7 linked regions of the Homo sapiens genome follow. The protein of the gene in region 3 purifies or fractionates together with the protein of the main gene of each other region. This does not show direct contact. Each region holds a gene or a part of one and is shown on either strand. Other genes may lie near its edges. The genes, in order: GAP43, EPB41L1, MYH4, MPP1, CNTN1, DHX8 and GNAO1.

Region 1 (3,500 bases), on a different chromosome or scaffold from region 3:
ATTCCCAGGTGCCCTGTACTGCATTTCCTCTGCCTTCCACTGTATTTCATTTTAACCTGGGTTAAAGTAGCAGCATCTTCCACTGGGCTGTACTGTTCGGAAATGGGTGGCTACCATGGGTTGCTTTAGGATTCTACAGCTGCCTGGAGGGGCGTGGACAGACAATCTAAGAGGGTGCAACAGGGTTAAGGGGAAAAATAGGTACAAAGAGAAAATCTAAGAAAATAATTTCTGTGAATATCAGGCTTAAAAATTTTAGATATGATTATTACTTTAATACCTATGGAAATGTTGGGGGAACTATAAATGTTATTTATTTTACTTCTTTTACTATTTACTACCAACCTGTTTGTTATGGGGGGATGTCATTTGTATTTTGATCTTTGAAGTTGGTTGGTTATTGTCATTGTTTTAAATTCTCCAAGTATGTCCACCTCTCCCTAGTTTGCCACGCTGCCTGCCCAGCTTTTTACGTGCCTGGGACCAAAACATTTCAGCGCACCTCTGACAATGATTCCTTTAGAGGAAGAGGAGTGTTCAAAACATCTGTGGGACACTGCCCCATTCAGTCATGAGTAGAGAACTTTGAAGCCCCCTTTAGTGATTATATCCTTGGGGTCTCCTGCTGAGCAGTGTCACTGTGCTCATTGGCTCTCAATGAAGGAATTCTCTCTTACGTCTCCTCTTCTCCATGGTAGCCTATTGATTTTCCCCAGTAGAGGACTCTGCTGTGGTCATATTCAGTGATGTGGTACAACCAAGGTAACCTATCCAGAGGGCTATCAATCAGTGATATTGATTGGGTGGCTGCCACAGGGTCTTTGACTGATGCTAGTTGGAAGTGTAGCTCTGAGTGACTTTAAATGTTCTGTATGTTGATCTTGGCTGCATTTTATTTTCATGGTCTCAGTACATCTTGCAAATTGATGCCATCAGTAATGATCAAGAAAAGAGGGAGGAGTTTCCTATTGCCATTCCCTGAATAGAAAAATTAACTTAGTGTCTCCCTGCTTCTCTTCCTCCTCTTTTTTATCCTTCCTTCCTCCCTCCTTCCTTCCCATTCTGTCTCCTTCTTTTCTATTCTTCCTTTCTTTTTCCCTTCCCTTTATATTAACTTTCTTCTGTGCTAGGTATTGGAGTCACAAAGATGAATAAGATATGATTTTTTGTCCAGGTGCGGTGGCTCATGCCTGTAATCCCAGCACTTTGGGAGACCGAGGCAGGAGGACTTGAGTCCAGGAGTTTGAGACCAGCCTGGGCAACAGAAGGAGACCCCATCTCTACAAATAATAAATAATTAGCAGAGTGTGGTGGTGTGTGCCTGAGGTCCCAGCCACTCTGGAGGTTGAGGCAGGAAGATCACCTGAGCCCGGGAGGTCAAGGCTGCAGTGAGCCATTATTGTGTGCCATTGTACTCCAGCCTGGGTGACAGAGTGAGACCCTGTCTCAGAAAAAGTAAACCAAACCAAAACAAAAACAAGATGTACTCTTTTGACCTTAATGAATTCTTACTTGGTATGGGGGTAGTATGAAATTCAGGGAATGACATTGAAAACAATCATATTCATAATCTCAATTAAATTCTGCAGTTAGGTACAGGGCACTTCCCTATGCCAATGCACTTTGGACAAAATATGAATGAGGCAGTGCTTCAGGGGCTAAGATGCAGTCTGCTGCTTACTATAAAAACGTTGCATATAATGTATGTCCTGATACTCAAATTATTAACGAAAAGAATAGATGCAAAATTTAGAATTTCTAGAATGATAATTGTGTATAAGAAAATGAAATACCCAGCTCATATTTCTGAATTTAAAAAATTATTTATGTTTCCCAGAACAATATTTTCCCTAAGACCCAAGGTAACCATCTATTTTTCAGCTTTCCAAAAGATAGGTCCACTTCTACCAAGCTGTGTGTTAGATGTGAGATTTTCCAAGGATATTTACACTTATTTGGCAGGGTGCCTCGTGAGCGGCTTTGATTTGAAATGTGGTTTCAACCACTTCCTAAATTTATACACAACTCACAAAGAATGAAAATTTTGGTTGTGGAAGTCCATAAATGCTGTTTATAAAACATGGGCACCCTGTCAGATACTCAGTGGTATACCTCTTAAATACTGTTGATTATTAAGCTTTTATGGAGCACTTTTATATTGCTAGAGTAATCATTTTTATTGGCTTTTCTTGACAACAGCCCAATGTCATTTGATAATATTTTTCTTTCTATTTTTATATTCCAAGAATAGGGACAAAGTAAATGGATATTCTGGCCACAAATACAGCCAGTGACAAAATGAGGATCAAACTGATTGAACTCTAAATCCTCACCTTAACTGTAGCCCTACAGTTCTTTCTCTCTATTAAGGTGTTATGTTTTGTCTCAGTTTCTGCATTTTCTTTTTTATCTTAGCTGTTGTTGTGATCTGATGCTTTTGGGAAATACCAACCAGGACCTTACTAGGATATTCTCTGTCCTACCTGCCTTGTAATATAATGCAGGGAAAAGATCTTTGAACTGAAATAAAGAGACCAGGGTTCTAGTCTCAGTATTTCTACCAACCAGATTTTAGGCAAGTTATTGCTTCTCTGGACCTCATTCATCTCATCCTTAGGAAAAGGGACTACGATAGTTGGTTTTTAAGGTTTTCTTTCAAGAGTTAACATATAAAAGTCTAATAATAGGTAGCACTTAATGAGCATTTATTAACTGCCAGGTCCTGTGCTGAGTGCTATGTGGGGATTGTTCCATTTAATCATCATAACCACTCTGTGGTAGTAATGTAGTAGTGTAATTTTCCCTTCCCTTTTTACAAGGAGAAATCTTAGCTTTAGGGAGACTATGGGACTTAATCATTGTTGACAGCTAGCAATGTTGAACCAGAAGCCAAACCCTGAGAGTCTGAGAGGTCACATGCTGAACCCTGACACTTATCCAAGTGCTATTCTGGAAGAAACAAAGAGGAGAGGAATGTCTAAGGACCCCAACAATGTGTTATAATATAAGAACATCTCTCTTCTTTGGATAATTGGATATTCCAGACTCTTGTCTGGGAATTATTAGGGATAGCATTTACAGATGGGTGTCTAGTAACTACTATAATTCCTGATCATAATTCCCTCACAGCCCTATCACCCCAGAATTATTAGGGATATTAAACTGTTTCTGAGTCTTAGATTCTTATTTCAAAAATGCTCCAAGTACTGTTTTATTAGACCTGAGAGAGCTATAAAGATCAGCTGAAAATGATTGTTCTTAACAGATGTATTACTGACTCCATCAAATACATCAGTTATGCCAGGAGGATCTGAAAACTAGAAATGGAAATTTTCATATCTCAATCAGATGAAAGTCATTTTATTTATTGTAGGCAATTGCTACCCTAAGTTTAGCTTATCAGAATCAGTATCTTTTTTATATTCTTGCTTAGGTCTACCCCCCTTTGGCAAGTGCATTTCCAAAGGATCTGGTACCTTTATAACTAAAATATTAAAGAA
Region 2 (3,500 bases), on a different chromosome or scaffold from region 3:
CTATGAGCTCCTCAAAGGAAAGGACCAAACCTATTCACTCTAAATACTATACCCAGGACCCAACACAAGGCCTGGCACACATATAACACTCAGAAAATATAAGTAGAACTAACTTGCCTGGAGGCCTGCCCCAAGGTGTTCTGGGAGTATCCACGGTTTCCCTACCCAAGTCCCCACTTTCCACCTTTTTTTTTTTTTTTTTTTTTTTGAGACGGAGTCTTGCTCTGTCACCAGGCTAGAGTACAGTGGCGGTGCAATCTTGGCTCACTGCAACCTTCATCTCCCGGGTTCAAGTGATTCTCCTGCCTGAGCTCCCGAGTAGCTGGGACTACAGGCGCCTGCCACCATGCCTGGCTAATCTTTGTATTTTTAGTAGAGACGAGGTTTCACCATGTTGGCCAGGATGGTCTTGATCTCTGGACCTCGTGATCCACCTGCCTTGGCTTCCCGAAGTGTTGGGATTATAGGTGTGAGCCACTGTGCCTGGCCTTTTTATTTTTTATTTTTTTTATTTTTTTTGAGATGGAGTCTCGCTTTGTTGCCCAGGCTGGAATGCAATGGTGTGAGCTCACTGCAACCTCTGCCTCCCAGGTCCAAGCAATTCTCCTGTTTCAGCCTCCCGAGTAGCTGAGATTACAGGTGCATGCCACCACGCCCGGCTAATTTTTGTATTTTTAGTAGAGATGGGGTTTCATCATATTGGTCAGGCTGGTCTCGAACTCCTGACCTCAGGTGATCTGCCCGCCTTGGCCTCCCAAAGTGCTGGGATTACAGGCATGAGTCACCATGCCCAGCCCCCACTTCCCACCTTTAAGCCACTCTCTACAAACCTAAAAACAATAATGATGGGTACAATTTCTTAAGGTGCTACTATGTGCCACAGAATATTTTCTAGGCATGATCTCATTTAGTTTTCCCTAGAACACAGCAAAGTAGGTACTATGTATTTTGTAGAAGAGGAAATAGGCTCAGGGAGTTAAATAAGTTGCTTAAGGTCACCCATCCATTCATTCAGATATTTATGAACCACTTCCAGTGTCCAGAGAACAGCCCACGGTGACTGTCAAGCCGAGATTTGAACTCAGATCTGCATAATTCTGAATCTCCCCAGTGACCCATGTGACTTCCGAACATCACCTACAAACTCTAGTGTGTACATCCTGGGGAGAGACTTGGGCCCTGAAGGGTGCTGATTTAGTAGGTCTGGGGCAAAACCTGGGAATTTTCGTGCTTGCTTAACAATCTCACAGGCGACTCTGATGAAACGTGGTTTGTGCACCACATTTTAAGCCCTATCTGCTTGCTACAGGACTATATAGGGCCAGTTTTCATTGATGTTAAGGGCACCCATCAATCCAATAGAAATGGGGACAGTGGAGAGTGCCATGTGGTTAGATTGTCAATCAGCCCAGAACCTAGTAGAACCAAAAGAATGACCAAGAACGATGCCCTGGCCTCCCAGCAGATAAGGCATCATCAGCTCCACACTGCAGTCATAAGACACTATTCTCCTAGTATGATGATGACCAGTGTAAGGGACACCAGCCTGCAGCAGAGGGATGCAGGGGAGGAGGGTGAATCAGACCTGCACTGCCAGGCCCAAGGTTAGACCACAGGTTAGACTGGTGGATTGCTAAGCTTCTTGGGTAGGTGGCCCAAACCATATGGCTAAACCTGGGACCCCAAAAGACCACGACTCAGGGAAGTTGTGGGGAATCCAGAGAGTGGTAGTATCACATCTCAAGTGGGAGTGAGCTCTAGGTTGGGACTAAGCCACCAAGAGCTGCCCAGGGACAGCACTGGTCTTGAGGGGCCAGCCTGGTGCAGATGAACTTGGGATGCATCTACCATTTTCCTGCTCATTCTGCAGAACCCAGCATGCCCACTCCCCCAGTTCCCTCTGAAGACCATTCCCCGCCCAGCCCTCCAATTTGGGCCATACCTCCATCAAGGCTGCGGGACATGGTGTACCGTTTGCTGGAAGAACGCTCAAAGAAGGGTGCAGGCCGGTCAATGAGGGCGCTGGCCTGGCGAGTCTGTGCCTGGGTCCTCCCACTGTACCGGAACTTGGAGCCCATCACCAGGAAGCCCTTGGGTGGGGGCTCAGGGGACACCAGCCTGCAGCAGAGGGATGCAGGGGAGGAGGAGGAATCAGACCTGCACTGCCAGGCCCAAGGTTAGACCACAGCTGGCCTTTCATCCCACTACTCCACCAACTACAACAATTCAAAGTGGTCCAGGAAGGGAGGGACTTGGGGAAAGGGTGGAGGACTTTCCTAGAGTTCTCACTAACTCCTCCCCCTGCTCCCCTCCATACACATGGCCTCTGCCCCATCCCCATTACCCCATCCAAGGTCAGGCTCACCGGAAGAATGTATGATGCTCGATGCAGACCTTCCACAGTCTCTTGGCTGACCGGTGGTTTGGGAGCTTAAAGCCAATTGTGCTCTCAAATTGCTCATACTGGAAAACCAAAAGGGCAGGTTAGAGGCAGGGCCTGAGCTCACTCTCGCCACTAGCCCATTCTTTGTGTTTTTTATTTTATTTGTTTAATGTTTTTTTGAGACACAGGGTCTCGATCATTTGCCCAGGGTGGAGTACAGTGGCGCAATCATAGCTCACTGTAACCTTGAATTCCTGGGCTCAAGAGATCCTCCTGCCTCAGCCTCCCAAGTAGCCAGGACTACAGTCAGACGACACCACACCAGCTAATTTTTTGTAGAGAATGAGTCTCACTATGTTGCCTAGGCTGGTCTCCAACTCCTGGGCTCAAGCAGTCCTCCCACCTCAGCCTCCCAAAATGCTGGGATTACAGACGTGAGTCATTCTTTCTGAACTCTTCTCAGGCATCTGCGACTTTGGCCTGTTCATTCACTGAATCAATAAGGGTGATTGAGCCCTTACTCTGTGACGGGTCCAGTGCTAAACACTAGAGATACATGGAGACCAAGGCAGAAGATTCTAGTAGGGGAAGGGGACCTCCAATAACAAATAAGCAAACAAGATAATTGCAGACACTGATCAGGGCTACAAGGGGAATGAAGGGAGATGTGTGGTGCAGCAGAACTGGGAAGGCATAGGGGCTCCTGTCATCTAAGGAAGAGCAGGGGATCCCCTCTAGACCTAGATCTAGGTGATCTTGAGCTGACATTTGAAGAATGGGAAGGAACCAGCTATGTGAGAAGCGAGAGGGGGAGATACTTTCAGGTAAAGGAAACATCAAATGCGAAGCACTCAGGCAGGAAAGAGCTCGACTTATTCAAAGATCTCAAGGCCGAAGAGGCTAAAGCACCTTGGGCATGGGGCAGTGTGGCAAGGGATAGGTGGGAGAGGTAGGTGGCCATGGAAGGAGTTTGAAGTTTAGCTCAAGAGCTAAAGAGAGTTCCTGAAAGGTGTAAGCAAGGGTGTGGATGGGAAGGGGGAGTGGGCTTGCCATGATCTGATTTAAGGGACTTTTTAAGATCTCTCCAGCAGCTATGAGGAAAATGACCTGGAGAGCA
Region 3 (3,955 bases):
CATAGAATTTTATCAAAATAAATTTTTAAAGTATAAAAGATTCAATCTATCAATGTGTCAAAGATAAATTCTAAGTCAACAGAATTATAAAAACAGTGATCTCATTAATTGGTAATTTAAGCCAGCTAATGATAGTTGAAAATATCTCACCAGAGCTCAGTTAGGGTCACACTTAGAGTAGGTATATTTCCTGCCATATTCAGTAACAGCTGTGTATGTAGCAAAACCATCAAAAGCCAATTTATGAGTATTATGGGCATATGTGATGGCCCATCCATCTTTTCAATCCACAGGGAGAATATCGTGGATACCATGACTTTCCTCCCACCTTAAATAAAAATATGTGGTTCCCACCTCATTAGAGCTATAGCTAGTCATGAGAGTCTGCCCATGAACTAGGAATGCATGTTTGTGTCTCCTTCCATTATGCAGAGGAAACATGCATGGAACATCACACAGCATCCTGTTGTTCCTTCAGTGAAAACATACAAGCTGGAGATATCCATGGAAAGTCCTCCAGAAAAAGAACAGAAGTGTTTATATCTATTCTAAATCCCTTATGCCTCCCCCAGTGGTCCATCACCACTGCCTAATCTGAGAATTCACTTTCACCTTCATATTTAGACTTTCAGACTTTAAAAGAATCTATCGCCAGTCTTTCTAAAATCCAGACTGTGGCTAGGAATGTTGTCTTAAAATCCATCGCTCACTGCTTCCAATCATAGTGTCAGGTCTAAAATTCATTCCAGACTCCTTAATGGCTCTAAGAACCAACAAATTAATTAATCCTAAATTCCTCACATCAGACTCATTCTGTTGGACCAATTTTATAGGCAGAGGAGTAAGTGGGAATCTGGCTTTGAATTCTGTGATGAATGATGCAACAGCCAAACTGGAGAAACAGTGTTAGAAGCCCTGAATCCCCATCCCCTATCAAATGCCTATAAAGAACCCTAGATCATCCTCTGTTAAATTATTTATGGGTGTCAAGAAATATTTCTAATTATATCCATTCACAGCCACAGTCAGTGAATATTGTGCAAAGAGATTGCCAAAAACGGTTTTGCCAAGTAGGTTCCCAGCTAGGACAGCTGAGGTGGCTGCTGTGTTTGCAGAATGGTCTCTATAAAAGTGGAGCTGAGATGCCTCTTTCCCATCCTTCCTCAAAATTCTTGAAGGTATGTATATGTGGAAGAACACTTACTTTTACATTCCTGATGATGATGATTTTTCATTTAAGGGATGTCTACTGCTTCCCAAATTTTAATTATTCTTTCCAACATTCTTAAGGACGACATTGTAGACAATATAGTTACTAGTATTTTGTGATTAAATGGGGAAAAAAAAGCATCCCACATTCTCTTTTTTCTTTCAACAGTAGTTGTCTGCTTTGAGCCTGCCACCTTCTTCATCTGATAATACAAGAGGTAAGAATAATTTATTATTACACTCTAAAGAACAAAGGAATCTCTATATTGCTACATCTTAATGAGCTACCATTTTATTTCCTAGTTTAGTATTGGGAATAGGATATCGGGGCAGCTGTTCTTTAAAAATGCCTTCTCATAAAATTTTGACTTTTCAGGCCACTTAATCAAACAAAACTTAATGAAACTTCTCTTTCACATGTTGTTAGAACTACAGAAAGAATGCAGCCATCATATGTAATATTTAATGTGAACTACTACTCCAACTTAACCCATAAAGATATATCAGAGAGACCGCATGATAAAATCAAGGTGTGTTTATCTGGAAGTCGATATTTCTAGGTGCCAATCCAGGCTTTTCACTGATTCTATTTGCCTGGGTCAAGCCAGTTAGCCTTTATGTATCTTGAAATACAGTGTGTTGCAAGTGGAATTAACAAACCTGCATTTAGCGGAACAGGACTCATGTCCCAGTACCGCCACTTATCACCCACCACTATGACACTGAATGACCCTGAACCTTTCTAGGCCTTAGTTTCCTCATCAGTAAACGAGGAGGCTGGATTCTATTGACTGCTAAGGTCCTTCCAGCTCTTGCCAACTGTGATTGACGTCAGTGGTTTTCAAGGACTCCTCCACAGAATCAAAACATTTAATGGAACCCTGCTAATGGAGAATCAAAACTAATGGAATCCTGCTAATTGTTCATGTGGAGACATGTACTTTTAGTATGATGTTAAGGATATATATAATCATGAAAACCTATTCTACACTTAAGAATTATTTTAAATGAGTTTATATTTAACATAGCAGCTATATTCATTTAGAAAAGAACAGAAAACACTGTTCATGTGGAAATGTTCCTTCCTTAAACTTGAGGCAATGATCACTGTGTGGGTGGATTCAAGAACCCCCTGCAACAACCTGAGGCTCTATTGGGGCTTGATCCCCAAGTTGGGAAACAATTAATCTATAATAAGACAGGAGATGGGAAGGGTAGCAATCATCTTTCTGTGTTTCCTGGATACACTGCATTATAGTAACCTCCACGTGGTAGTGTGTTGTTAATTCAAGTTGCCTGGTGTAAAAACAAACACAGAAACAAAATATAATGTAATATAAATAACATTTCTTCTTCAAAGAAAAAAAACCTGACATTAAATGTTCCAATATATATCCCCTGAAAATATGTCTAAGTTTCACAGTGTCATCAGGACACTTTTACAGATAAGACTGATTTTGAAAATAGAGTATGTGGAAATTCCATAGCTAACATTTTAAGTTGAGGGAAAGTTAATGCTGATGACAAAAGATCAAGACTCTGGAAAGCCTACAGAAGGTGGTGGCTATTGCTGTTGTCGCCATCATTGCTGTCATTGTCATTGGCAACCAAGACACTTCTGCTCCACAGAGGTCACCTTCTTTTATTCTGGCCACTCACCCTGTCCTTGCCATCAGGACAGCAGGACTTATTTTATTTTCTCATAATTAATTTGTCAGTAGGGAAAATTTTTTAAGTTCATTTTGGCTTGAAACTTTATACTGGCTATCCATTTCAGAAAAATATTTAGAAGACTGGTTGGTATTTTTAAAAAGAGGAGAAGAAAGAACGAGATTATAAACCTAAGAAAATAAGAATCAGATTTTAAAATATGTTAGGTTGAAATCCAACTAAAAACAAAGAGAAATACAGATCAACACATACAATCACTATAAAATTTTATTAAAAATTAAGAAGTTCCTTTTCTCCAAGAATCTTTTAAAGTTGTTTTTGGTTTAGATACTACTTCTGACTTTCAAACAATTTCAAAACTAATAAAGGAGATTTTAATTTTAACTTAGGGCAAAATTATATGTTGGATATTCAGCTTTCATTGTAGTTATTTTTTCCTTTACTTACCTAATACCTGTCAGTTAACTAGGTGTTTATTTGTAATGATTAGATCTGGACTTATGTCCGGAAAGAACAGGTGTATCTGTCTACATTCAATTTTAGTAAATCTGACATCCAATTTTAATAATTTGGGATGAGAGGAAAATTTGCATAAAGATCTGTATTTGAGTTTTTAAGACAGGTTCATTTATATTGTAAAGCCAGTGGAAACAGTTATTGTCCATTTCTTTGTATCATCACGATGTTAAGAGGGGGAAGTTGGAAATAAGAAAGAAAAGAAAAGTAGCAAGAAAAAGAAAAAATTCTGAACATGCTTGGAGCATCACAAATGTTGCTGATTGAATGTTGATTCCTCCACATTTCTCAACTAAGGTTTACAACATAGAGGATGGAACTTAGGCTTAAAGTATCACAAAAATTAAGCTATCAACATAGTGCTTTCAAATCAATGAGCTGATCTCTCAGCTCCTTGACATAGTATACAGGAGTGGTCCCTAAAGGCAGGGGTGAGGAAACAAGCATGGAAAATTAAGCACATTAATATGAAATCAACAGAACAATTCTCCACCCCAACCCTGAATCATCATTTGGCTCTGTTTCTTCCTCTAGGTATACCTAGTCCAGTACTGCCATC
Region 4 (3,302 bases), on a different chromosome or scaffold from region 3:
GTCAGCCTGGAACAAGAACAGTAGTACTGGGAATGATGGAAAGTTGTATTGGGGTAAAGCTCAAAGCTGCTTATTAGAAGGAATCCATTATGACAGCTATGTAGGTTTTTTTTTTTCACTTTCCTTTTCTTCCTTCCCCCCCCTCCCCGCCGCCCTTCTTTTTTTTTTCTAGACCCTGAAAATTGTTCGGACAGCAGAACTTTCGCCTTTCATTGTGTTCATTGCACCTACTGACCAGGGCACTCAGGTGAGGAGAGGTTGTGCGCGATGGGTAGTTCACTTTCTCCGGGCCTGCCCATACTGGGACCTCAGTCCAGGTCATTGGCCAGAGTGCTGGCTGGAGGTCACAGCTCCAGCTGGGCTTCTTCCTCCAGGGCCAAGAAGCCAAAGGGTATGCACATTCGTTCCAGCTCTTAAGCCACTAGCTAGGCCAGTGCCCATGCTACCTAACAGGGACAAAACAAACCAGACCCAGTCATCGTCCTGGAGGCACACAGTTCCAGGGGCAGAGATGGACAGTTGAGCAGATCCTGATACTGGTGGGATGCAGGCTCTGGCAGGGGAAGCTGTGATGGACAGAGGTGGCACTGAACCCGCCCTGGGGTGCAGTATGGCTGTGGGGAAAGACAGAGAGGCCAGGAATATATCAAAAAGCCTACCCTGCTCCTCTGCCCAGCCCTACCCATGCACTTTGCTGCACTGTGCTTTTGCATTGAACAATGGACACCTTTCCCTATCAGGGTGTGAGGAACTCTTTTTCTCTATAGCTGCTTGGTCTTCTGCTGCATGCATGTGTAATACTGCAGTCAATAGCCCTGTGCATATAGCACATGTGTGCAAATATATCTGTAGGAAAAACTCCAAGTAGGATCACTGGGTCCAAGAGCACACACACTTAGAATTTGGACAGGGACCGCCAACCACCTGTGAGACTGCTTGTTTCTCTTTGCCTGCAGCATGTTGTCAAAATTTTCTTTTTTTGCCAGTCTACTGGAGGGAAAAATAGTATCTCATATTTCTTTTTTACTAAAAGAGATGATCAGGTACTTTTTCATATGAAGAGCAATTTGTATTGCCTTTTCTGAGAATTATCTGGTCATACCCTTAGCTCATTTTTCTGCTGAGTTATTGACCTTTGATTTATAGGAAGTCTATATTAGGGTAATTAGCCCTTTGTAATATCAGCTGCAATTTTTTTCCAATTTGGCATGTCTTTTTGCTATGCAGACATTTTTACTTTTATGTAGTTACATGATTTGTCTTTCATGGCTGCTTGGTTTTAGGTCAAAGACAGAGTCCTGAGATATATATACACACACATTTTTAAATTTTGTTTTTTGTAGAAATGGGGTCTCACTGTGTTGCCAGGCTGGTCTTGAACTCCTGTGCTCAAGCAATCATCCTGCCTTGGCCTTCCAAAGTGCTGGGATTACAGGTGTGATCTGGGATTAGAAGTCACCTTTATCTGACTGGGTGCAGTGGCTCACACCTGTAATCCCAGCACTTTGAGAGGCCGAGGCGGGCGGATCACCTGAGGTCTAAAGTTCCAGACCAGCCTGGCCAACATGGCAAAACCCTGTCTCTACTAAAAATACAAAAATTAGCCAGATGTGGTGGCGCATGCCTGTAATCCCAGCTACTCGGGAGGCTGAGACACGAGAATTGCTTGAACCCGGGAGGCGGAGGTTGCAGTGAGCCGAGATTGTGCCACTGCACTCCAGCCTGGGCCACAGAGCAAGACACTGTCTCAAAACAAAACAAAACAACAAAATCACCTTTATCTTCGTTTTAGGATTGCAGCTCTGGTGGTTGTTGAAATGGCTCTTCCATGTTCAAAGGGCATTAAGTGGGAGATGCTGGTGAAGTCCATGCTGTCTCTGCATAGCTATTGGTCCTCCAGAGGACTCTGATTAGTCAGGGTTAGCTTGAGATCCTCTGAGAATTGCCATGGTCTTTTGAGATTGCCTCTTCATGCCCTACATTAACATTCTTTCACAATGTCTTCTGAATTTGACTCGTCAAGTATGATGCACAGCTGAGCAACGCTAACAATTGCTGTTTAAAATCTGTCACTGGCCTCTCTGGGCTGGGGGTGGTGCAGCTTGCTTCATCTGTGGCTTTCTTCTTTGCAGACAGAAGCCCTGCAGCAGCTGCAGAAGGACTCTGAGGCCATCCGCAGCCAGTACGCTCACTACTTTGACCTCTCACTGGTCAATAATGGTGTTGATGAAACCCTTAAGAAATTACAAGAAGCCTTCGACCAAGCGTGCAGTTCTCCACAGTGGGTGCCTGTCTCCTGGGTTTACTAAGCTTGTAGAATGGGGGAACCCACTGTATGCCCCTCTCCAGCATTTGGAATTCCACCCGCCTTGCTTTAAGACAAACAGGGCTGCTCCAACTAGTTTTGTGTCAGCTTCCAGCTCTCTGCAGCTATCCTAATTCAGCCAGTAAGGTTCAGTCTTCTTGCTCAGGCTCCTGAAGGGTTGATTCTCCTGATAGATGGGGCCCCACTGATCTGGATTTGAAAAGGATTTCTAGAAATTGGGGGTAAGAAGTACTACCAAAATGTAACTGCTAATCAAGGGTGATGCACAGCAAAAGCAATGGACCCCATCCCTCTAAAGCCTGCCCTCCTTTGCCTTCAACTGTATATGCTGGGTATTTCATTTGTCTTTTTATTTTGGAGAAAGCGTTTTTAACTGCAACTTTCTATAATGCCAAAATGACACATCTGTGCAATAGAATGATGTCTGCTCTAGGGAAACCTTCAAAAGCAATAAAAATGCTGTGTTGAAATGCCAATGACCTTGTAACTCTGGGTTTCCACACAAAAAGAAATGTGGCCCATTTCACTTAAGCTCCTGGACAACAGCATTAACACAAGATGCCTCTCTTGTGTTCAGATGATAAACACTGGTGCCCTGGAAGAGTCCCCATTCTCTGCCCCCACTGCAGGGCTCTACTGGCTAGTGCCCATGTAGAAAAACACCCTTAAGGTTGTTGTAGCTAGTGGAGCGCTCATTGTGGGCACATATTTAGAACGAGAGAAAATCCAAGCCTGGGGTCCCGTGGTACAGTGGAGGCCGGTCGCTGAGCCAGGGCTGGGGCCCACCCTGCATGCCTGGCTCATGATATGGCTACAGCTCAGGGCCTCGCCTCGCTGCATCCAAGAGCGCTTTTTTTTTTTTTTTTTTTTTTTTTTTTTTGAGACAGTCTGTTTTGCCAGGCTGGAGTGCAGTGGCAGGATCTCGGCTCACTGCAACCTCCACCTCCCAGGTTCCAGGGGATTCTCCTGCCTCAGC
Region 5 (3,500 bases), on a different chromosome or scaffold from region 3:
CCTCCCTTGTTTAAGACTTTAAACAGATTTATATTACTCTTAGATGAAGCCCAAGCCCCTTAGCATAGAAAACTTTGTCATTTATGATGTGGCTTACTATGTCTCATCTCTTAAAAGTCTCCTCCATTTTCCTCTAAAGACAAATCACACTGATTTCAGTTTCTGCAATTTCTTACACATTCTAAACTCCTCACCATAGGGCCTTTGTACATGCTGCCCTCACATTCACATACACCCTCACATACACCCTCACATACACCCTCAAGCCAACCCACACATCCCATCCCTCCCATTTCCCATCCTGGCTTTCTCCTCGTCATAATTTTTGCACTCAATATTACTTCTTCTAGGATACATATAAACTATTCAGTGTGGCTTTTATACAAATAATCTATATAAGTTGTACACTGCTTTTTCATTTTGTCCCCAAACCACCAAAACATTGGTAGATGGTCCATTTATAAGGAAGATGATGATAACATCTTGTTCATTTTGAGATAGGAAGAGATTATTTGCACTTTGAAATCACCTTTTTATTTTTCTACAAAAATATTTAATAGGCTAACTGCACAAAATTCAGTTGAATATGAATGGATATAGATGCCAGATGCCTATACTGGGGAAAAATATGTTAGAGAGATCCTACTTTATTTCCCATTGTTTATTAGCTGTGTGACATTGGGCAATTTATAACAACAAGACAACAAAAAAACACCTCTGAGCTTCAATTTTCTAAATTCCTTATACATTATAGAGTCCTGTTAATTAAACCTTCATTATAATAGATACTGACAGGGATAGGTATTTCTGTCCATCTTAGAACTACAGGATCTTCTGTGAAAAAAAAAATTCAGAGCAAAAAACATTTTCATTATTAACATATAAACAAGTCTTCTATAAAATAAACTTTTTCAAACAGATTTTGCAATTGGATTTCTAGTTTCAGCACTGACCTGCTGCTATTGACAAGCCACTCTGTCCCTTTACTCCATGAAAACTTTGGTTTCGGTGCAGCTTTAGGTTTGCATTCAATTATCACCCTTCCACCTTTAGCAGCCAGGATCTTTTTCTTCATAGGATTCATTTCAAAAGTTGGAGCCAACGCTAAAAAGAAAACAAATTGTTATCTTTCTCTTTCTGTTTGTAAAGCCTAAACATTGCTTCTGTGTTGTAGAATCTTTTATTCTCCTTAATAGTTAATGGAAAGGATTAATCTCGGTAAATATGATCAGCTGTCACCAATAGGCATTCTATACCTAATGCTTTGTAACTTTTATTTAATAACTTTGACTTATAAAATTCACCCAATTCAAATGTACAATTCTTGATGATAACTGAATTGATTATTAGAAACTTTAATTAGAATCCAGGCATGGGTGGCTCACACCTATAATCCCAGCAGTTTCAGAGGCTGAGGTGGGCAGATGGCTTACCCAGGAGTTTGAGAGCAGACTGGGTAACACGGCAAAACTCCATCTCTACCTAAAATACAAAAAAATTAGCTGGGCATGTTGGTGCATGCCTGTAGTCCCAGCTATCCAGGAGGCTGAGGTGGAGGATCACCTGAACCTAGAAGGTCAAGGCTGCAGTGAAGCGTGATCGCCTCACTGCACTCCAGGCTGGGCAACACCGTGAGACCCTGTCTCAATAAATAAATAACTTCAATTTCAATCAAATGTTTTATACACATTTACCTTAAAATTAACTCTGAATTCTGTTGCTTTGACTCAATTCCACAAGGAAAGTAAAGTGAAAGGCTGGAAAAAATTGACCAGCATTATACACACTGACATATGGTCCTAGTCAATCCTCTAAACCACATGTTGAATGAACTATTCCCAGTTTATAAATGAGAAAATTGAAATCTATTAGGATTATTTAATTTGGCAAAGGTACCACAGGTAGTAATAAGTGGGAGTCACATTTGAATCTAGGTCCTTCTGTTTCCAAAGCATGTACTTTTCATTAAACAATGCAGTCTCTCCTTCTTTATACAATTACTGAGCATCATCTGTATGCAAACACCCTGCAAAATGCCAAAATAATTGGAGTCCTGCTTTCAGGATCTATCTATAAACAGCTATGGGAATAATGGATCTAATCAACTAATTAAGGAGACATGATCATTTGTAGTTCATCATTACCTCCAAGTACAGAGCAATAATTATTAGAACAGAATACAGAGGCTTAAAAAAGGTTACTTCATTGATGTCATGCTCAGACTTTCCTCAGCATCCACACATTTAATCCACTGCTCACTCTCCTCTTCCCTTGGCAGACTCCAAGCAGATTTCATCCATATATTTCAACACATTACAATCATCCGTAACTATGTACTTTCTGGAGGCTTTTCTAGGCCTAAGCATATCTTCATCTGGGTTTTGACTCTTCATCCTCTGGTCTGGTCATTCTCAAAATTATCTTTGTATTAAAATCATCTGGGTATCTTTTTAAAGTGTCCATTCAGTAGGTCTGGGGTGAGCCTGGGATTCTGCACTTCTAATGTGCTCCTAGGTATGGCCACTGCTGCTGATGCTCTGAAGAAGACTTTTGTTGTGGCAAAGATTCATTCTATTCCATTGTTTCGTTAGTCTGAATTATGATAATTAGCAATAAATAAATCAGTAAACAACCAACATATGTTGTACACCTAACACAATACTGGGTATTTTGTGTAGGCTCAATAAACATTTTGTGTGATATGACATATTGCTTTAACAATGTTTAACAGAAATTAGAAATGATACTGACCCAAGATCTTCAACTCAGCATTTGCATAAATGGCTCCATATGTGTTTTCAGCTATGCACTGATACATTCCGGCATTTTCAAAAGTCACATCATACAGTCTTAATTCCCCTTTATGATACTGAAAAGAATAAAATTGAAACATATTCTCAATGAACTTTAATAGAAATACTTTCACTTAGGTCTGGGTTTGGTTGTCTTTTCATTTAGATACATTATGTTCATCTGCCCCCACTGTTACCTAAGATGAACTGAGTGGGATTTTCATGGCATGGGAAAGGAAAACCCACTTACCATGCCCAAAGGCTCTTGTTCTATTCATCCTACAGAGCTGAGAGTCCACCTTTTCCCCTCTTGGACCAGCTGGGAGATTACAGTGGGAAGGTAGAGAAGAATCCCACTGCTGCTACTTGTCCCCAGGGCCAAAGGTAGGACTTAGAGCTTCACTCTTACCTCTGTCTCTGTGGGGTACAGGAAAATAGTGGCAAGAAAAAGAGGACAATATCAGGTATTGGAGATGGATGAGTAGGAAGAGGGTGGAAAAGTGGAACAAAGGAAAAAAATAAGGAGAGAGAGAGAGAGAAGGTAGAGTAAGATTACAGAAAGTTGTTTAAACTGAAAGAAGATACTTTATGTTCAGTTTTTGTCTTTTTTAGGAAGCTTTTATATTTCAGGGCCCAAGTGCCCTTTCTGTATTGTCTCTCCTGCTAAATTTATCCCAGGACTACCCTGAAACACTGCTTGAACAGGGA
Region 6 (3,500 bases), about 33 Mb from region 3:
TGTGAGTGAGCTGTGCCCAAGATTGAAAGCATGTAGTCTAAATGTTAGCCAAGATTATTTATGGGTGGTGCTACTAGATGATGTGCATTTTCTTTTATACTTTTATATGTTGTCTTAATCTTTTACAGTGGGTATGTATTACTTTCATAATTTGTGAAAGCCTTAAGGCTATTTTTATTTTGAAACTTAAGTAATAATAATAGCTAACACTTTTTGTTTTGTTTTGTTTTTTGAGATGGGGCCTTGCTCTGTCGCCCAGTTTGGAGTGCAGTGGTGCAATCTCAGCTCACTGCAACCTCGGCCTCCTGGGTTCAAGTGATTCCTCTGCCTCAGCCTCCCAAGTAGCTGGGACTACAGGCGCATGCCGCCATGACCACCTAATTTTTGTATTTTTGGTAGAGATGGGGTTTCACTGTCTTAGCCAGGATGGTCTCCATCTCCTGACCACATGATCCACCCGCCTCAGCCTTCCAAAGTGCTGGGATTACAGGCATAAGCCACCGCGCCTGGCCCAATAATAGCTAACACTTACAGTGTACTTAACGTCCTAGATACATGCATTGACTTGGTGCATTCTCGCATTGATCCTATGTGGTAGATATTATTTTCACAGATGAGGAACCTGAGGCACAGAGGGGTTAGGTGATTTGCCTAACATCACAGAGCTAGTGGAGCCAAGATTTGAACCTGGGTAGCCTGGCTCCAGCTTGTATGCTCTATACTACTTGTCAGGGTGGCGGTGATCAAAAAATTAGTTACACATGCCTGTCCTGATTTGGAGAGAGACATGTGTAGAATGCTGTAGAGTCCAGCCACTGTGTGTGATTGCTGCCTGGATTTGTGTGGTTAGTTGTCCTTTCATAACCTATCCTTTGGTTTGGAGCTGGCATAGTAATTTGTAAATCCTGGTACTGTTTGTAACAACAGATGGTTTTGTCAGAAAATGGCCCTCTTCAGATTGCTATTCATTGTTTCCTAGCAACCTATGGCTAAACTACATTTTTTTTAATTAAAAAAAAATCAGTGTTTTTGAAGTAGTGTTTTATTATTTTTGAAAAACAGAAGAAAAAAATTTACCCACCATCCTACTACCTCCACTGTTATTATTTTGCTGTTTTTCATTCCAGTCTTTTTTCATGTTTATTTCTTTCATGGTTGCAATTTTAGTAGTCAAGTAAGTATGCAGTTTTGTATATTTTTTTGAGTATTTAATTTTCCTATTAGAATAATACATGTTCAATATTTGGTAAAATCTAAAGAAAATAGACCTCATCTGCAAGCCTACTATCAGAGTTAGCCACTGTTAACATTTTAGGGTTTTTTTCGCCTAGTCATTTCCTTCTAGTAGTTGATATATAAAGACTTTTACTAAAATTATTTTACATTGTTTCGTAACTTGCATTTTGCATTTAATGCGAATGAACATTTTCTTCTGTCATTTAACATTGCAAACATGATTTTTATTTTTATTTTTTATTTTATTTTGAGTCAGGATCAGTCTTTGTTGTTGCCCAGGCTGTAGTGCAGTGGTGTGATTACGGCTTACTGCAGCCAGCCTCGACCTCCCCAGGCTCAGGTGATCGTCCCATCTGAGCCTCCTGAATACTGGGACTACAGGCGTGAGCCACCACACCAAGCTAATTTTTGTATTTTTTGTAGAGATGAAGTTTCAACATATTGCCCTGGCTGATCTCGAACTCCTGGGCTCATGCAATCTGCCCACCTTGGCCTCCCAAAGTGCTGGGATTATAGGCATAAGCCACGACGCTTGGCCTGCAAACATAATTTTTAAAATGACTGCAGAGTCATCATTGGGATGATTGACGTAATATGTTTATTTCACTTACATTTTTGGTCATAACTGTGGGGATGGTGTTCTGTCATCTTGTTTTATGCTTTCTCTTTTATATTGCGCCACACTATTTTGAAGATATATGTCTCAGATCTGTATAATATTTCTTCCATTAACCCTGCTTGTATTGCCTCCCTCGAACAAACTTCCCCGAAGTGCTGAGTATGGAGAGGGGAAGATAAGAGCATTGGTAGTCTTGGAAATGGTCCCAAAGGAAGTGAAATCAACCCCATTTCTGATTTTGCCAGTTGTTAATTGTCCCCCTTTTAACAGATATCCTGGGTAAAGCTGTTAAGCAGTGTTTAACAGATATGTTGCTTTTATATGCCCACCCCTCTAGGCTCAGGCAAAGCAACGAGCTGGCAGAGCTGGGAGAACAGGCCCAGGGAAGTGTTACAGGTTGTACACAGAACGTGCCTACCGAGATGAAATGCTGACCACCAACGTGCCGGAAATCCAGAGAACCAACTTAGCAAGCACAGTGCTGTCACTCAAGGTAGAAATCACTGTCTTGTTAAAATGGGTTGGTGGAACAGTCCAATCCTGGCCTTCATAAATGAATTTCAGTTTTATGAACCTTGTTAAATACTTTAGTAACCTCATGAAAGCAGTCCCTTTGAGTGAAATGCAAATGGCTGTGATAACAGCCTCTCACGGCAGGTCTGGGGCTAAGTTGGCATGTCTGCTGTGAACACACATTTTTTCTTACCATAACAACCAGCAGGATATTAGGTTGTAAAAGGTTCTAGTTAGGAGCATTTTCTAAAAGGAAATTAGAAAAATATAATCAATGCCAAACTGTGGACACACACACCTAACCTCAACCACTTTAGCGCTCAGATCCAATTCTGTTCTTTTAGAACGAGAGAAAACCCCCTGTTCAAAAACTTTGCAAGGGAACTGTCAGTACAGATTTCAGACTGGCTCTCAGGGGCTTGGTTTTCATTCTGAATCATTGTTCTTCCTCTCTCAGTCCCCAGTGAGGACTTCATTCTCTTTTGGCAGGAGGAGCTGTATGAGTAATTTCCCAGCTGATGGCGTTTCCCCCGACACTGATGCTACCCTGGAGCCCTGGTACTTTCTGGTGCAGAGTGCTCTGTTGTCATTTATTATTTATTCCCTGTCAAAGAGGCTAAAACAGAGCTTTGGAAAGAAAAAAGAAACCTACTCCAGTCTCTGAAGTGCCAACAGAGAGGCATCTGTGGCTTGGACTTCAGCTCCAAACTGCGACTTTGGGCAAGTTTATTTACTTTGCCCTCTGCTCTGTGTTCTGCTCTGAAAAAGGGGCTGTTAATAGTATTTGTTGGAAAGATAAGTGAGATAATGTAGGTAAAGGCACTTGGCACAGTGCTTGATGATTGCTAACATAATTCATCATAGTTATTATTCACACAATAAACATTTATTGAACACCTGCTGTGTTTATGGTCACAATCACTTTATGAGAAAGAAATAGAAAGCTTAGGTCCTACCACATCACACTTTATATACACTTGAATCGTGCATCATTCAGTCGTTTCTTTTATTCATCGAATTAGCTAATGTATTGAACACATGCTACATGCCAGGCATGTAGATTGCACTGTGGTGGTTTTGTGAACATAGTTTTTACCCAGTGTGAACTCTCTGAAAGCAGGGGCCATATCCT
Region 7 (3,500 bases), on a different chromosome or scaffold from region 3:
TCCAACCTCAAACCCTCGGTGCCAGCCTTCAGAGGCGTGGGGTGGGGGATTTGCATGTGTTCCAGACAGAAGGAGATGACAGACGCCAGGCTGTGACCCCATAGCCTATGGGCCCCGCTGTCAGGAGTGTTGGGGCTTGTCTCCAGTGACCCTGTGGGCCATGCTCGGTGCCTGGCGGGCTGCAGCCCAGAAGGGGACCACGCAGTGGACCTGCAGGCTCAGGGCAATCACCAGCAACTGTACAACCACCAGCTTGGCGCTGCTGTCCCAGAAACAGCTCCAGAGCGCTGCACACGCATCACCCACCCCACTGCCAACAGCCCCCCACAGGCAGGTACTATTATTATCTCCCTTTTATGGAAAATAGTAACTGAGCCAGAAAGGGTGCTGCCTAAATTCAGCAGCAAGCCAGTGAGTAGCAGAGCCAGGACTAGACCCAGAGGAAGGCTGCACTCTCCCAGGGGAATGTCCCCTCACTGAGGCCCTAGGCTGAATGTGACGCAAGACAGAAGGTAGGAGCCTGGTCTGGCATTTGGCAAAGGAGCCCAGAGCCACGACTGTCACTCACCAGCATGCCTCATCCCCATTGCCCTTCCTGGCCCATCAGCCCCACACACTGCTCCCCAGCACCCCCAACCCCACGCAACTCTCCTGCAGCATCCTGGGCCCTCCCCACCTCTCCCTCAGCATCCCCGGCCCCATGCTGCTTCAGCAGCATCTGACGCCAGTGCCCCAGGGATGGCTGTCAGGCTAAGACTGCTATTTCTGTTGCCTGTACATTCTTGCTTGGCTGCCTCCTGGTTTTTTTAGGGTTTGCTTAAATTTGCTATGGCCTGATGGCCTCTGTGACTCCACCAAGTTTATGGAAGAGGCACATTCTGCACGGCTCTGTGTGATCAGGTTGCATACACAGGCTCTGCCACACTGGCATCATGAGGCATTTGCCTTGGCAATACAGAATTGGTGGAGTGCCGGCACGGCCTGTCCATGATGGAAACCTCTAACCACAACAGCTGGCTGGACCCCAGAGCCATTGTGGGCACCCGAGGCCCAGTGCTCAGAGGGCTGGCCTATCCTGCGGCCGTCTCCTCAGCGCTGCCCCCTGCCCGGGGGGCCCAGGCCACTCACCGTGGTTTCGTCTTCGTGGAGCACCTGGTCATAGCCGCTGAGCGCGACACAGAAAATGATGGCCGTGACGTCCTCGAAGCAATGGATCCACTTCTTGCGTTCAGATCGCTGGCCTCCGACGTCAAACAGCCTGTAGGAGGCAGGGAGCTGGTAGGCGCAGGGTCCAGGCAGGTGAGGGCTGCCTGGGGATTAAGCTGTGAGCACGCTGAGAGGCAGAGGATGGGGGCCATGGTGCTCAGAGCCTTGCTAAAAGCCCTCACTAGAAGACCTTGTCACTCCAGGTGATGACAGACAGCTGGATCACTGCCATCCCCAGGCACTACCCCTGGAGTCTGTCCTGGGACTGGCTGTGCTCACAGATCATGACTCAAAGACCTGCCCTTGCATCTGAGGAGCATTTTACTAAGAGGGCGCACCTGAGCCACCCCCAGGAAGTGCCTCTGAGAGTCCTCCTCGCATGAGGACCCTCCTCTCAGTCTATTCCTTCCTGGGTTTGCTCTGGGCAAACTCCAAACCAGCCTGGGAGGGAGGCAGGCAGGAGATGTCACCTGTTATGTGGATGGCAGAAGTGAGCCACCCATGGGCTTAGGACATGCCCAAGCTGGCGAGAGTCCAGCTGTGGTGGAGCTGGGTCTGGCTGTGGACAAAGCTGGCGCTCTCACCTCTGCCCAGTACGGCCCCTTTCTGGCAGATCAGAGCCTGGCCTCTTCCCCCTCTCAGACTCTACTCCCGAGGGGGCACAAAAATTCTGGAAGAGACTGTGGGCAGGTGGGACTTACGTCCTGGAAGTAAAAGGTCAGTCTCCCACCCCAATCCCCAGAGCGAGGAGTCCTGTAGCCTCCTAGATCTGGGATGCCTGCTGACACACAGCCTGCCAGAGGGGGACAGGGAAGGATCTCTGGTCCCACCGGACACAACGGAGTGACTGCAGGCAGAGATTAGTGTGGGCTCAGAGCAAGGAATGGGTCTGGTTCTCATTCCATCAATCAGGGGATCCTCCCCTGGATCCCACCTCCCCATCTGAAATGCAGGGGCGTTGGCAGATGGCCTCTGTGGCCCCTCCAGAATGCTTATTCTCAGACCCCGCCTTGCTGGGCTGGGTTGAGCTGAGATCCCCATCCTGTGCTCCCAGTGGGGGAGCAGGAGAGACCAAGGAGCCTGGGAAGGCAAGAGAGGCCCCTCAGGGCTGCTCTGCCCAAGGTTTTGCTCCCCAGATCTGCGGAGGCCTAGGGGTTCCTGGGCCCAGAGCCTCGGCCCCTCAGTCTGAACAGGAGCGGGCAGGAGTTGGGGACATGGGAGGCAGGGAATATTAGAATCCAGCTCTCCCAGCAGGGGTCCCTGCCCTCCCCTTCTCTGCTGGCCTCTCTTCCCCACAGGACGGAGCAGGCCTCAGTGCACGCATGTTACTGCAGGTGGGGACACAGCGCTGCAGCAGGACCCTGGGAACCAGCTCACCCGTCAGGCCCCTGCTCTGAGGCCCCAGAGCCCCTGGGTTCTAGCTGTGCTCTGTGCCTGGGAAAAGCCCTGCTCTTGTCAGGCCTCAGCTTCCCAAGCGTACTAGGAGAGGGTGGGTCAGCTCTCTCTGCTCCTTCCAGCTCTGGGATTACTTGGGTCCTCAGGGTCTCACAGAGGTAGCTTGGGCTTACCCAGCCCCACTCTTGGCTCCTCCCCCCAAGGTGACCTTGGAAGGGCCCCCTGGTAGCCCACCTCCTCCTCCTCCTTGGAAGTCACCTCAGGGACAGGCTGCCCCTCCTTGTCCAAATCCTCCCTGTTCCTCACAGCCCCACTCTGGGAATCTTCTTCCAGAAAGCCTCCCTGCTCACTCCAGCCCCTAACCTTGGCAGAAACACAGACAGGTTCCTTCTAGTATCTAGCTGCCTGCCCCAGCCCGCAGGTTCCCTGGGGCAGGATGATGTTTGGGCGCTGTAAACGCAATGCGCTGAGAGGCTGGGCATGTCCCATCTTAGCCCTCGCCAGGGCCTGGGGGCCTCTCTGGGCCTCACCTGAAGTGGAGGTTCTTGAATGTGAAGTGGGTTTCTACGATGCCAGTGGTTTTGACCCTGGTTCGGAGGATGTCCTGCTCGGTGGGCTGGTAGTCGGCGGCCCCAATCCGATCCAGGCTGTCCAGGTAGCTGAGGATGGCAACAAACAGGGGACTATGGACCAAATGCCTGGACACTGTTCGGGACTGGCCAGGCCACCCATCTTCAGAGTCCAGTCTCGGTCAGGGCCCCTCCAGGTCACTGTGGAAAAGACATCACCTCCATTCCAGGCCATAGGGAGTGGGGGCGACTGAGGAAGTGGGTCTTAGGGGTCTTGGCCTCACGCACTCATTCACAGCCAAAAGGGCTACGCATGCAGCTCCCGGGACA

What was found.
Region 1: the proteins of MYH4 (region 3) and GAP43 purify together in Homo sapiens (affinity purification with mass spectrometry; one large-scale study listed by BioGRID and IntAct). This does not show direct contact.
Region 2: the proteins of MYH4 (region 3) and EPB41L1 purify together in Homo sapiens (affinity purification with mass spectrometry; one large-scale study listed by BioGRID and IntAct). This does not show direct contact.
Region 4: the proteins of MYH4 (region 3) and MPP1 purify together in Homo sapiens (affinity purification with mass spectrometry; one large-scale study listed by BioGRID and IntAct). This does not show direct contact.
Region 5: the proteins of MYH4 (region 3) and CNTN1 purify together in Homo sapiens (affinity purification with mass spectrometry; one large-scale study listed by BioGRID and IntAct). This does not show direct contact.
Region 6: the proteins of MYH4 (region 3) and DHX8 purify together in Homo sapiens (co-immunoprecipitation; one large-scale study listed by IntAct). This does not show direct contact.
Region 7: the proteins of MYH4 (region 3) and GNAO1 purify together in Homo sapiens (affinity purification with mass spectrometry; one large-scale study listed by BioGRID and IntAct). This does not show direct contact.

The regions. Positions count from the first base shown.
Region 1 is NC_000003.12:115,679,010-115,682,509, forward strand, and holds part of GAP43 (neuromodulin), read left to right. Parts: intron 1-3,500. UniProt on the Homo sapiens protein: This protein is associated with nerve growth. It is a major component of the motile 'growth cones' that form the tips of elongating axons. Plays a role in axonal and dendritic filopodia induction.
Region 2 is NC_000020.11:36,189,240-36,192,739, reverse strand, and holds part of EPB41L1 (band 4.1-like protein 1), read right to left. Parts: intron 2,464-3,500; coding exon 2,366-2,463; intron 2,119-2,365; coding exon 1,943-2,118; intron 1-1,942. UniProt on the Homo sapiens protein: May function to confer stability and plasticity to neuronal membrane via multiple interactions, including the spectrin-actin-based cytoskeleton, integral membrane channels and membrane-associated guanylate kinases.
Region 3 is NC_000017.11:10,466,760-10,470,714, reverse strand, and holds the start of MYH4 (myosin-4), read left to right. Parts: upstream 1-1,155; 5' UTR 1,156-1,178; intron 1,179-1,378; 5' UTR 1,379-1,427; intron 1,428-3,771; exon of another isoform or gene 3,772-3,930; 5' UTR 3,931-3,955. UniProt on the Homo sapiens protein: Muscle contraction.
Region 4 is NC_000023.11:154,778,184-154,781,485, reverse strand, and holds the end of MPP1 (55 kDa erythrocyte membrane protein), read left to right. Parts: intron 1-172; coding exon 173-247; intron 248-2,132; coding exon 2,133-2,309; 3' UTR 2,310-2,802; downstream 2,803-3,302. UniProt on the Homo sapiens protein: Essential regulator of neutrophil polarity. Regulates neutrophil polarization by regulating AKT1 phosphorylation through a mechanism that is independent of PIK3CG activity.
Region 5 is NC_000012.12:40,936,939-40,940,438, reverse strand, and holds part of CNTN1 (contactin-1 isoform 1 precursor), read right to left. Parts: intron 2,870-3,500; coding exon 2,752-2,869; intron 1,105-2,751; coding exon 954-1,104; intron 1-953. UniProt on the Homo sapiens protein: Contactins mediate cell surface interactions during nervous system development.
Region 6 is NC_000017.11:43,514,975-43,518,474, forward strand, and holds part of DHX8 (ATP-dependent RNA helicase DHX8), read left to right. Parts: intron 1-2,192; coding exon 2,193-2,348; intron 2,349-2,857; exon of another isoform or gene 2,858-3,088; intron 3,089-3,500.
Region 7 is NC_000016.10:56,334,489-56,337,988, reverse strand, and holds part of GNAO1 (guanine nucleotide-binding protein G(o) subunit alpha), read right to left. Parts: intron 3,261-3,500; coding exon 3,132-3,260; intron 1,259-3,131; coding exon 1,129-1,258; intron 1-1,128. UniProt on the Homo sapiens protein: Guanine nucleotide-binding proteins (G proteins) function as transducers downstream of G protein-coupled receptors (GPCRs) in numerous signaling cascades.